2 separate regions of the Homo sapiens genome follow, and region 1 is linked to region 2. Evidence: fine-mapped expression QTL. A gene starts in region 2. The other region holds a variant in brackets. All regions are shown on one strand. Distances are from middle to middle.

Region 1 (5,252 bases), 110 kb after region 2:
TTTTAAAGGAATATATGTTGAAAATATTCATTCAGGGATGAAGTGTTGTGATACATGTGACTTACTTCCAAATGGTTCAGAAAAAATGTATATATACATATAAATACAAAGTAATATAGCAAAATATTTATAATGACTGAATGTGAAATGGAGGTATATATGTGATCATTGTATTAGTCTTTCAACTTTTCAGTTTGTTTGGCATTTCTATATTTAAGAGTTGAAAAAAATGTCAATGCATATCATATAGCACAAATAACAGGAAATCAAGCTTATGTTTCCCCTAAGGTCCATTTTAGTCCTTCGATTCTAGAATCACAGAAAAGGAGATTGAGAATAGTGGTTACGGATAATAAAAGAAAAATGGAGGGATTAAAAAACAGCTTTCTATAAGCCAATATCATAACAGCTTGCTCATTAGATCAGTGTGATTACTTCTTTATTAGGCCTTATTTGAGCTGTCATCTGGTATCAATTAGGTCAGTTATAGTCTGTCAGGTCTACTGGAGGGAAATGGAGCAAGGTCCATCATGGTGAGGATGGCATAATTAAAGCAATGGAAATAATGACTACTCTTCATTTAACCCTCATCCAATCGACCAAGCTCATATTGGCCTTCCACTCATATTGAATGCTAAAGATGTGGAAGGAGAGAAAAAACACTTCCAAAACAGTTTTTAAAATCTTGTTTCAATTTAAAGTCAAATCAAATCAGATTATAAAGAAAATATTGTAGGGACTTAAAAAAGTAAAAGGGCATAACCCATTTATAAATATGTTTCTTAATGATTTAATTCTATATTTACATGTGTATATATGTTATATATCATGTATTATATATGTATATACTGTGAATATTTTTCAACAAAAAAGGTGTAATAAAAGTGAACATCTCTGAATATTTTGCTAAAGTGCAAAAATTTTGCATGGTAGTACAGAATTAAAAGAAGACCATTGATATGAATTGAATTCAGCATATACATCTCTTGATCCTTAAAGAATCTAAGCAAAATCCTGAGACCAAGATTGTAGCTATGTTGAAAATCTTTCCAAAGTAATTTGAAATCAGGTTGATTTTATTCAATTACACCTCAATTGTAAAGGTAACAGAAGAAGCAAAGAAGACATAGAAATCCATTTCAATCTAGACATTAAAATATTAAAAAATAGCGGAATTGAGGTTGGGATAATTACTCCAAAAAATTGAACTATGGTGAAATTTCACTTTTATACTCCTGATAGGTAATAAAGTATTTGGACTAATAGTTATCATATATGACAGATGTGAGTTATCAATTTTAATAACTCTTGGTTTTATTAGGTTTTAAATTAGACCTAAATGTACTTCAAAATTCACAAACCTTTAATGACTCAGAAAGCTTTTTAGTATTTTATGGAGTTGTATATGTAAAAATACAGCTAAATATATAGTCACCATAGACTATGTTGTCTAAATTGTTTTTCCAACCAAAAAAAAAAAACTAACTTATTTGTCACTTCCTTCTTTCCTAAATAAAGTACAAAAATGGGGAATATGAAGGTGGGGAGCACATTACATACATGTTTAAGTTATATTGTTAATTTTGATTACAAATTAATGGATGTCTAGCTGAGTGAGGACACATGATACTGATCTGTATTCTCTTACCCCACTGCTGCCATGAAAGTAACTGTTTGACCTATCTTTGACAACTCAATCTTTCTGGGCCTCAGTTATGTCATTTATGAAATGAGGAGAGTATATATTACCAGATAATCCCTAGGTTACTATTCAGTTTTAAATTCTGCACCCTTCATGACTTAGTTACCTCCCTCTAAAGTCATTTACCTTAATGGGAAGGAATTAGGCAAGCACCAAAAAAGGAAAAGTAATATCAGACACTTCTACACATGTATTATTTCTTCCTTCCTTCTCTCTTCCTTCCCTCCCTTTGTTTCTTCCTCTTCTCTCTTTTAAGATTTAGGGATTATTTCTTGTTTAACTGATAAAATTACCTACAATGTAAGATATTATGGTAATTATAATATCCTGTCAAATGTTCTACATTGTCACAAAATTTGCAGGTCTTACTTCCCATATGAATTTTCTAAATCTTTTATCATCAACTGATATCAGCTAATGGCACAGTTACACCACAGCATCTTAATTAGTTTAGCTCAAGTGTAATTTTGGTATGATAAAGCTATTCACTATAATAATTCATGTGCTTATATTTTTCCTTTGATCTTCCCAAAATTCTGATAAAACATTGCTTGACTCTTTACAATTTAAGAAGCTATTAGTGTTAGACACAAGATTAAAGATTGCATCTACCTCTGTTTTAAACCTTGATTTTTTGTTCATACAATCCTTTTTCT[A/G]TTTACTCTGCCAAATAATAGTAGTAGAAGGAAGTTTTAACCCCAAGCTTTTGGGGGAAAATGAGATAGTCACCAATATTACCACCTAAAATCATGGCAAAGGTATCTGCTATCCCAGTCTCTGGCAGCTCTTTCACAGCTTTTCATCTAGAGTTTGATAGGTAGTAGCTTTCCATTGCCTTCCAAATGAGCCTAGGAGGCCAGTTCACCAGGACTCCCTGCAGTTCTAACAGAACACAGACAAGTTGATCTGCATCCCAAAGCCTGCCACTGGGGCTATATGAAAATGCTGCCTCACTAATAGAAGCACAATATGCAAGATGCCAGTGCATCTCTGTGATTTACAATATGTCTAATGAGCAAACCCAATGAAGAGGTTTGTTGTCTACCATAAAACCACATGGATGTAAGCAGTGATTAGAAGCAATTAACTCTGTTCAGCACTAAATAACTTTCTGTCATTAATGTACATTTTTCCACCTCATTAGAGGTACGGAGGAGAGCATGAGGTAAGGTGCACTCAATTTGAATTTCAGATATGCATATGTTTGGTGGAAAAATTCCATAAATTTGTGAGGAAAACAGAATACATGTTAATAGAGGCCTTGTATTGAAGCCATTTTTATTCCATCAATACTGGCTTGGGCATATACTCAATTTTACCAGCCATCCACCACTCCTTAGGTGAATAGGAAGCTCATGAAGTCAAGTTCTGGTAAGAAACACAAGAGGTGGTCAACAAACTAGTGACAGTGAACATAGATTTTCTTTTTATTTGCTGTCAATATAATAGACTATTCTTTTAAATGATTAGTGATGTCATTTCAAAGAATAAATCTAGAAAATATAATATTATTTAAGATACTTTTTGGGAAATTCAGCCTAAGACATCCAAAAATGTCACTCAGCCCTCCTCTACAAATATCAAGTGTATATAATACCATTTCAGTCATTTGATGAATTTATTAAAGAAGAGAGTTTTGCTAATTGATAGTCTTAATTAAAAAATAAACTTTGACTCTACCCACCAAAAAGAAATCTTTCAAAATGTATTGACTTTTAAAAATAATGTAAGAGATGTTCTGGGTCACAGGCTTATAGTATAATATTAAATGAGTAAAGGAGATATACTATGATCTCAAACATACAAAAGCAAGCTCAGGAAAAATGTGCAAATAAATAAACTATAATAATATTAACAGATATTCTAGAAAATGGGACTCTGGATGGTTTTATTTTCTTCATTATTACTCATAGTTCCCAACTTTTCTACAGTACACAATTTTTTGTTCACTTATCTCCTACCTTGCTCCCCAAAGGACTAGATACAGCTTAAAAAGTAAAATAATTGAGATAAAGAGTAAACATAATTGAGATAATATTTTTAAAATAAAATTATTTGTGCTTATAAATGATTATAAAGAATAGAACAGAGTACTTAAGAGAATGAAATACATGTGTATTTATTTTCTTTTGATGATTATGAATCTGTAATAGTTATGGTTTACCAAAGTCAATAATAGTTAATAATATAATTCTTCTAAAAATACATTCTAAAAATAATACTTAGAGATAAGGTGTATAATACTCATTCTTTGCCAGGTATTTTTCTAATTTGTATGTATTCATTTATTTAATCCTCACTCAATAATTCTATGAGATAAGAACTACTATTATCCTCATTTTATAGTTCTTGACTACTTGGACTACCTGTATTCAAGTCCAAGTCATGCTAGCTACATGAGCATTTTGAAGCAGATTTGCTGTTTACTGGTTACTGACTTGCCTAAATCCAGTAAGACAGAATACTCACATAGATGACAGGTTACATGCAGCAGGCAGAAAGCGACAATTGTGAATCAATACCTGAAGGCTCAGGAAAACTACCTGGGGTGGATAGAGTCTTACTTTTTCATGGTCCACTTGTACCACAGCTGAGGAAACCCAGAAAGCAGCCCAACCTGGGTTTTACACTCCAGGATAACATGATTTGCTGGGATGAAGCATTCAGGGACATCTTCTTTTTAGGGGGGACTGGAATAGAGCCTTGGCTGTTCTGGCCAGTCTACTCTTTTCTCAGGATTTTGCATTCCCAGCATATTTTACAGTTATTCTTGAGAACTTCCAGTAAGGAAAGGGAGGGAACTGGTTGGCCCAAGACTACCCAGAGAACTACCCTGCAAACATAAACAAGTCACTCAATGTCTCTGTGCCTCAGTTTCTAGATCTGTAATACAAGGCATATTAATCCTTATTTAGTAGGACTATTGACTAAGTAAATATGTGTAAATTGGTAAGAACAATATTTAGAAAAGAGCAGGTACTATACAATTAACCATTAGTATCACTTAAAAAATAATTTTTAGAAGAAAATTATCACTGACTTTGATGAACAATATGAGAAATTCATGATCAGCAAAAGGAAATAAATACACTCTCTTAGTCTGTTGGTGCTGCTATAAGAGAATATGATAGACTGGGCAATTTATAACGAACAGACATTTATTTGGCTCACTGTACTGGAGAGTAGGAAGTCTAAGATTGAGGGGGTGGCATCTGGCAAGGGCCTTCTTGCTGTGTCATTCCCTGGTGGAAGGCAGAAATGCAAGAGAGGGTGAGAAATAAGACAGGACTGAAGTTGGACTTTTATTTTTATTTTTATTTTTTTTTAGATGGAGTCTTGCTCTGTTGCCCAGACTGCAGTGCAGTGGCGCCATCTCGGCTCACTGCAAGCTCTGCCTCCTGGTTCATGCCATTCTCCTGCCTCAGCCTCCCAAGTAGCTGAGACTACAGGTGCCCGCCACCATGCCCAGCTAATTTTTTGTATTTTTAGTATAGACAGGGTTTCACTGTGTTAGCCAGGATGGTCTCGATCTCCTGACCTTGTGATCTGC
Region 2 (5,252 bases):
GAGCTCTCATTTACAAAACATTTATGTATTAGATGACTTTTTGCTAAATTTTTGCAAAATATTAATGAAGATTGCCAATGCCCTTTACTTATGATAAAAACATACCACATACAAAACTTGACAAGACATGCTAGATCGATAGTCCAGAAATTAGAGGCACATTGTAATTCATGAGAGAACATTTATACTTGACCTCAGTAGGAGGGGCCAAATTAAGTACTACTTACTACCAACACCACCTTAAGGGTCAGAGTTTTAGTTTTGGATCCATGCTTTCCACTGCAGCTGAAATGAATATGCAAATGCTGAGGATATATGATAGCAACTTCTCTGTCAAAAAAGAAGACAGCCTATCAGAATATAACCAGTTTTTGCATTTTTTGTCTTAGCTACTGTGGTCATTGCAACTGGTAGACCATTCTTCCATGACAGTGGAGTTGTCATCATATTCCTTCTACGATTTTATATGAATAAAGATCACATTATTGTATATTAAAAACCATGCTTATTACTGTTGGTTTTGGTACCATGCCTACTCTGGAATAAGTCAAGTATACTGCCCAACTCTTGAGCATTAAGTCAGCACTATTCTATGTTGAAGGATATAGTATCTGTAATGAACCTGGCTGCATTTAAATTAACCCTGTCAAAGAATACAGTGCACTCAAGTTTCAATAGTCTATGCTTTTTAAAAGAAGAACCCACTACAGAAGAATCAACAAAATGACTCTTCTGGATCATGCTTTTAGAGCTACATCACTACAAATTATAGATCCCCATCCATGGTGTCAGGCACAACATGAAAGAAATTTCTGAACGGAAATAATACTGGTGAATAACTTTTCCAATGTATACAGCCTATCAAAAAATCAGGGAGCTAAAATGCTTACGTTAAATCTTAAAAATATATTAATAGATACTGCCAATTGTCAAAATACAACAAAAATAGTGGCTATTCAAGCTATGTTTCACAGATCACATGGCTCTAGGTTACTCTAGCTATTAAAGGAGTGCGTACCCTCATTGGAAAGAAAGCTGCACACATATTCTAGATGAGTTAAGAGGGTATCCATGACCTGGCTAATTACAACATAATTCATTTTGGTACTTGAGTTCTGAGGTCTGCTAGGAAACTGGGAAGAAAGACTGTACGAGACACACAGATAATTCCATTTGTGCAAGTAGTGCTAATAAAATGTGACTTCCTTGCACTATTAAATACCCCAAATCTTGCTTTATCGAGATGGCATATGATTATTTACTTATTCTTCTTCTTGTTCTGTCACCCAGGCTGGGGTGCAGTCATGCAATCATAGTTCACTACAGCCTTAAACTCCTGGCCTCAAGTGATCCTCCTGCCTCAGCCTCCCAAGTAGCTGAGACTACAGGCATGAATAACCACACCCAGCTAAGATGACATTAAAATTTTTAAATGCATCTACAAATAAAACTTAGGATTTATGACAAAGGTAACAATGCAGTAATATGAAGAAAGGATAATAATCTTTTTTCACAAAATGGTGTAAATGGTGCTATATGAATTGTACATCCACACAGGAAAAGAATATTGGGTCCACTGATACCTTACAGCATACACAAAACTAAATTTCAGTCAATTGCAGATCTAAATATAAAATGTAAAACTAACAATCTTAGAAGAAAATATAAAAGAATGCCTTCAGTCACCATGGAGTATGCAACGATTTATTAAACAGAACACAAAAAGCATTAACCACCAAATTTTAAAACTGGAAAAATTGAACTATATTAAAATTCATGCTTGGTGTCAAAAATCACCATTAAGAAAGGGAAATATCAATCAATAGACAAGAATGATATTCATTACAAATATATCTGACAAAGGACTTATACCCAGAATATATTTTTGATAAAACTCAAAAATTAATGTGAAAAAGACACACAAGTAGAAAAATGAGCAAAAAAATCTGAGCAGCCATTTACAAAAGAGAACACAGTATGGCTAATAAGCATATAAAGTGCTCAACTTTACTACTCATCAGTGCAATGCAAATACAACCACAGTGTAATACTTCTACCCCTACAAAAGAATGGCTAAAATAAAAACAATGGGGAAATAGCAAATGCTGTTGAGAAGGTGGAGCAACCACTCTGAAAAAGTGGCAGTATTTATAAAAGTTGAACATCATTATATTCAATGACCCAATAATTCTAATCCTAGATAAATATGCATTTGTTCCAACTAAAGACAAGTCTAGAATGTTCAGCTACCCTAGGGGTACTATTCCCAAACTGAAAATGACAAAATGGCCAGTAACAGTAGAATTGATAAAAAAAATTGTGACATATTTAGGCAATAGAATATCAAACAAGGAAGAATATAAAGAACCCTCAGCTATACACGAGGTGGCTGAAACTTACAAAGAGTGACTGAAAAAACCTGACACAAAAATAATGCATGCACTATGATTCCATTTATATAAAGTCTGTCGGAAGTCTAGGTAATCGTTATTCTTGGGATGTTGGAAGCAGGTACTGGAAGGGGACAGGAGGGGGGGTTCTGGGATACAATGTTCTTTATTTTCTCTAAGTTCCTGTTATATGGGTTTCTCCAGTTTGTGAAAATTTATTCAGATGTACCCAAATCAAAAAGTTAAAACTGAAACAAAAATAATAATTGCAATGGATCGCGTTATTTAAAACAAAGGCGACCACAATGAACTCCTCTCTCCCCACCCCCTAACCCCTGCGCACGCACACGCACAATGAAGCGAAACCTCATTGGCTGGGATCAGTGACGCACTTCTGAAAGCCGCAGTTTGGCACCATCTTTTCCATCTCCTGCTCCTTCCGCCTTCCCGCCATCCGCCCTCCACACGATTCAGCCCGGTGGTGTTAGCCCCCTGGACTCGATTCCTGAGGCAAACAGTGCCCCTTAAGGTCGGCGACAGCCTCTTCTGGGTTCACTGCAGTCCAACCGGTTCCCTACCCTCTGCCATTATGAACATCCGCAACGCTCAGCCAGACGACCTGATGAATATGCAACACTGCAACCTCCTTTGCCTTCCTGAGAACTACCAGATGAAATACTATTTATATCATGGCCTTTCCTGGCCCCAGCTTTCTTACATCGCTGAGGATGAGGACGGGAAGATTGTGGGCTATGTTCTGGCCAAAATGGAGGAGGAACCAGATGATGTCCCGCATGGCCATATCACCTCACTGGCCGTGAAGCGTTCACACCGGCGCCTCGGCCTGGCCCAGAAGCTGATGGACCAGGCCTCCAGGGCCATGATAGAGAACTTTAACGCCAAATACGTGTCTCTGCACGTCAGGAAGAGTAACCGGCCAGCCTTGCACCTTTATTCTAACACCCTCAACTTTCAGATTAGTGAGGTGGAACCTAAATACTATGCAGATGGGGAAGATGCTTATGCTATGAAGCGGGATCTCTCGCAGATGGCAGATGAGCTGAGACGACAAATGGACCTGAAGAAGGGCGGGTATGTGGTCCTGGGCTCCAGGGAGAACCAGGAGACCCAGGGCAGCACACTTTCTGATTCTGAAGAGGCCTGTCAGCAAAAGAACCCGGCTACCGAAGAAAGTGGCAGTGACAGCAAAGAACCTAAGGAGTCTGTGGAGAGCACCAACGTCCAGGACAGCTCAGAAAGCTCGGATTCCACCTCCTAGAGCATGCTTAAGGTATTCTGTCTTCCCTGACCCAGTACCCCCTTCTCCTAAATCCCTGCATCCTGCCTTGGCCTGCCCAATTCCATCCTGTCTTACCCCATTCTGGCCCTGCGAGATTTTACGGTAAAAACCACCTGGTGACCTTAGGGAGAAGTTAGAGTGAGTTGAGGGAGACTCATTACACGCTATTGGAAGTTAAATAGGATACCAGCTCATGCTGAAAGTAGATTAATTTCAATGAAGAAACAAGCATTTATCCTGCTTTTTGGGCATGAGTTGTATTTCAGGGTAACCACGTAGTTGATGAAAGGCATTTTTTTCTTTATGGAATTCCAGTTAGTAATAATGATAGAAATATAAAATCATCATTTTCCAACTCTTGATGAAATAATGGACCCAGCCAAGAGTCATCAATGGCTAATAGCATTAGGTAAAAGTTGGAGCACTTTGTAATGATGGATCAGACTGACAACACTTGAAGTCAGTGTAGTCAGTCTTCACTAAACGTGGAGACAAATATGTGTCTCCTTATGCAACAGGAAGTGCACAGTACTACCTATGAAATATTCTTTCCAAAAGAAAATTATGAGATCTGACTACCATTTTACAGAAAATAGAGGGACTTGTTAAACTATACCATGATGCAAACAGCCAAATCCAGAATGAGAGGTTTTTACAAAACAAATGACCTGGTTTCTTCAACAAATAAATGGCACACACACAAAAAAAGATGAAGCATTTTCTGTTAAACTTTACAGATACATTAAACTCAACTGCTATGGACATTGTTTGGATACTGATTCAAACAAACCATGTATAAGACATTTTTGAGATAATCAGGCAAAATTTGAACGGGGACTATATTAAGGAATTACTAATAATTTTATTAGAGGAGCTAAATGGTATTGTATTATGTTTAGAAAGTCCTTATCTGTTAAAGATACATACAGAAATAATTATAGCTGAAATAATAGGATGCCTAGGATTTCCTTTAAAATAATCCAGCAAAAAAAGAAGAAAAAGATTGAAAGAGGGAAAATGAAATAAGAATGGCAATGATAATTGTTGGGTTGGGAAATGGGTACTTAGGGGGTTCCTTATGCCATTTACTCTTTCGAATGTGTGAAAATTAGCATGAAAAGTTAAAGAGCCAAAACAATTACTGTACTTTTTTTTTTTTTTTTTGAGACAGAGTCTCGTTCTGTCGCCCAGGCTGGAGTGCAGTGGCGCGATCTCGGCTCACTGCAACCTCCACGTCCTGGGTTCAAGCTATTCTCCTGCCTCAGCCTCCCAAGTAACTGGGACTACAGGCGCCCGCCACCTCGCCTGGCTAATTTTTGTATTTTTGTATCTTTTTTTCTTTTTTTGAGATGGAGTCTAGCTCTGTCGCCGAGGCTGGAGTGCCGTGGCACTGTCTTGGCTCACTGCAAGCTCCGCCTCCCGGGTTCACGCCATTCCGCTGCCTCAGCCTCCCGAGTAGCTGGGACTACAGGCGCCTGCCACCACGCCTGGCTAATTTTTTTGTATTTTTAGTAGAGACGGGGTTTCACTGTGTTAGCCAGGATGGTCTTGATCTCCTGACC

Which allele goes with the higher level. Positions count from the first base shown, and alleles are read on the strand shown. Sizes are in standard deviations (SD) of each study's normalised expression.
For the expression in tibial nerve of the gene that starts at base 2,796 in region 2, G is the high allele of the variant in region 1 and A is the other (small effect, 0.33 SD a copy in GTEx).

The links. PIP is the estimated chance that this variant, and not a neighbour inherited with it, causes the effect.
Region 1: its variant is the best candidate, but not a certain one, in a credible set for the expression of NAA11 in tibial nerve (GTEx, PIP 0.65).

What each region holds. Positions count from the first base shown.
Region 1 is chr4:79,214,573-79,219,824 of GRCh38, reverse strand. All of the region lies in intron 4 of LINC01088 (long intergenic non-protein coding RNA 1088), which reads right to left. It also overlaps a transcript of NAA11 not described here. Among named protein-coding and RNA genes, the nearest start is that of NAA11, 110 kb to the left of the region's middle. The variant A/G (reference allele first, on the strand shown) is at 2,359.
Region 2 is chr4:79,323,605-79,328,856 of GRCh38, reverse strand. It overlaps NAA11 (N-alpha-acetyltransferase 11, NatA catalytic subunit), which reads left to right and starts at 2,796. Exons shown (of 2, transcript NM_032693.3): 1 at 2,796-3,681. The coding sequence starts at 2,980. The coding sequence ends at 3,669.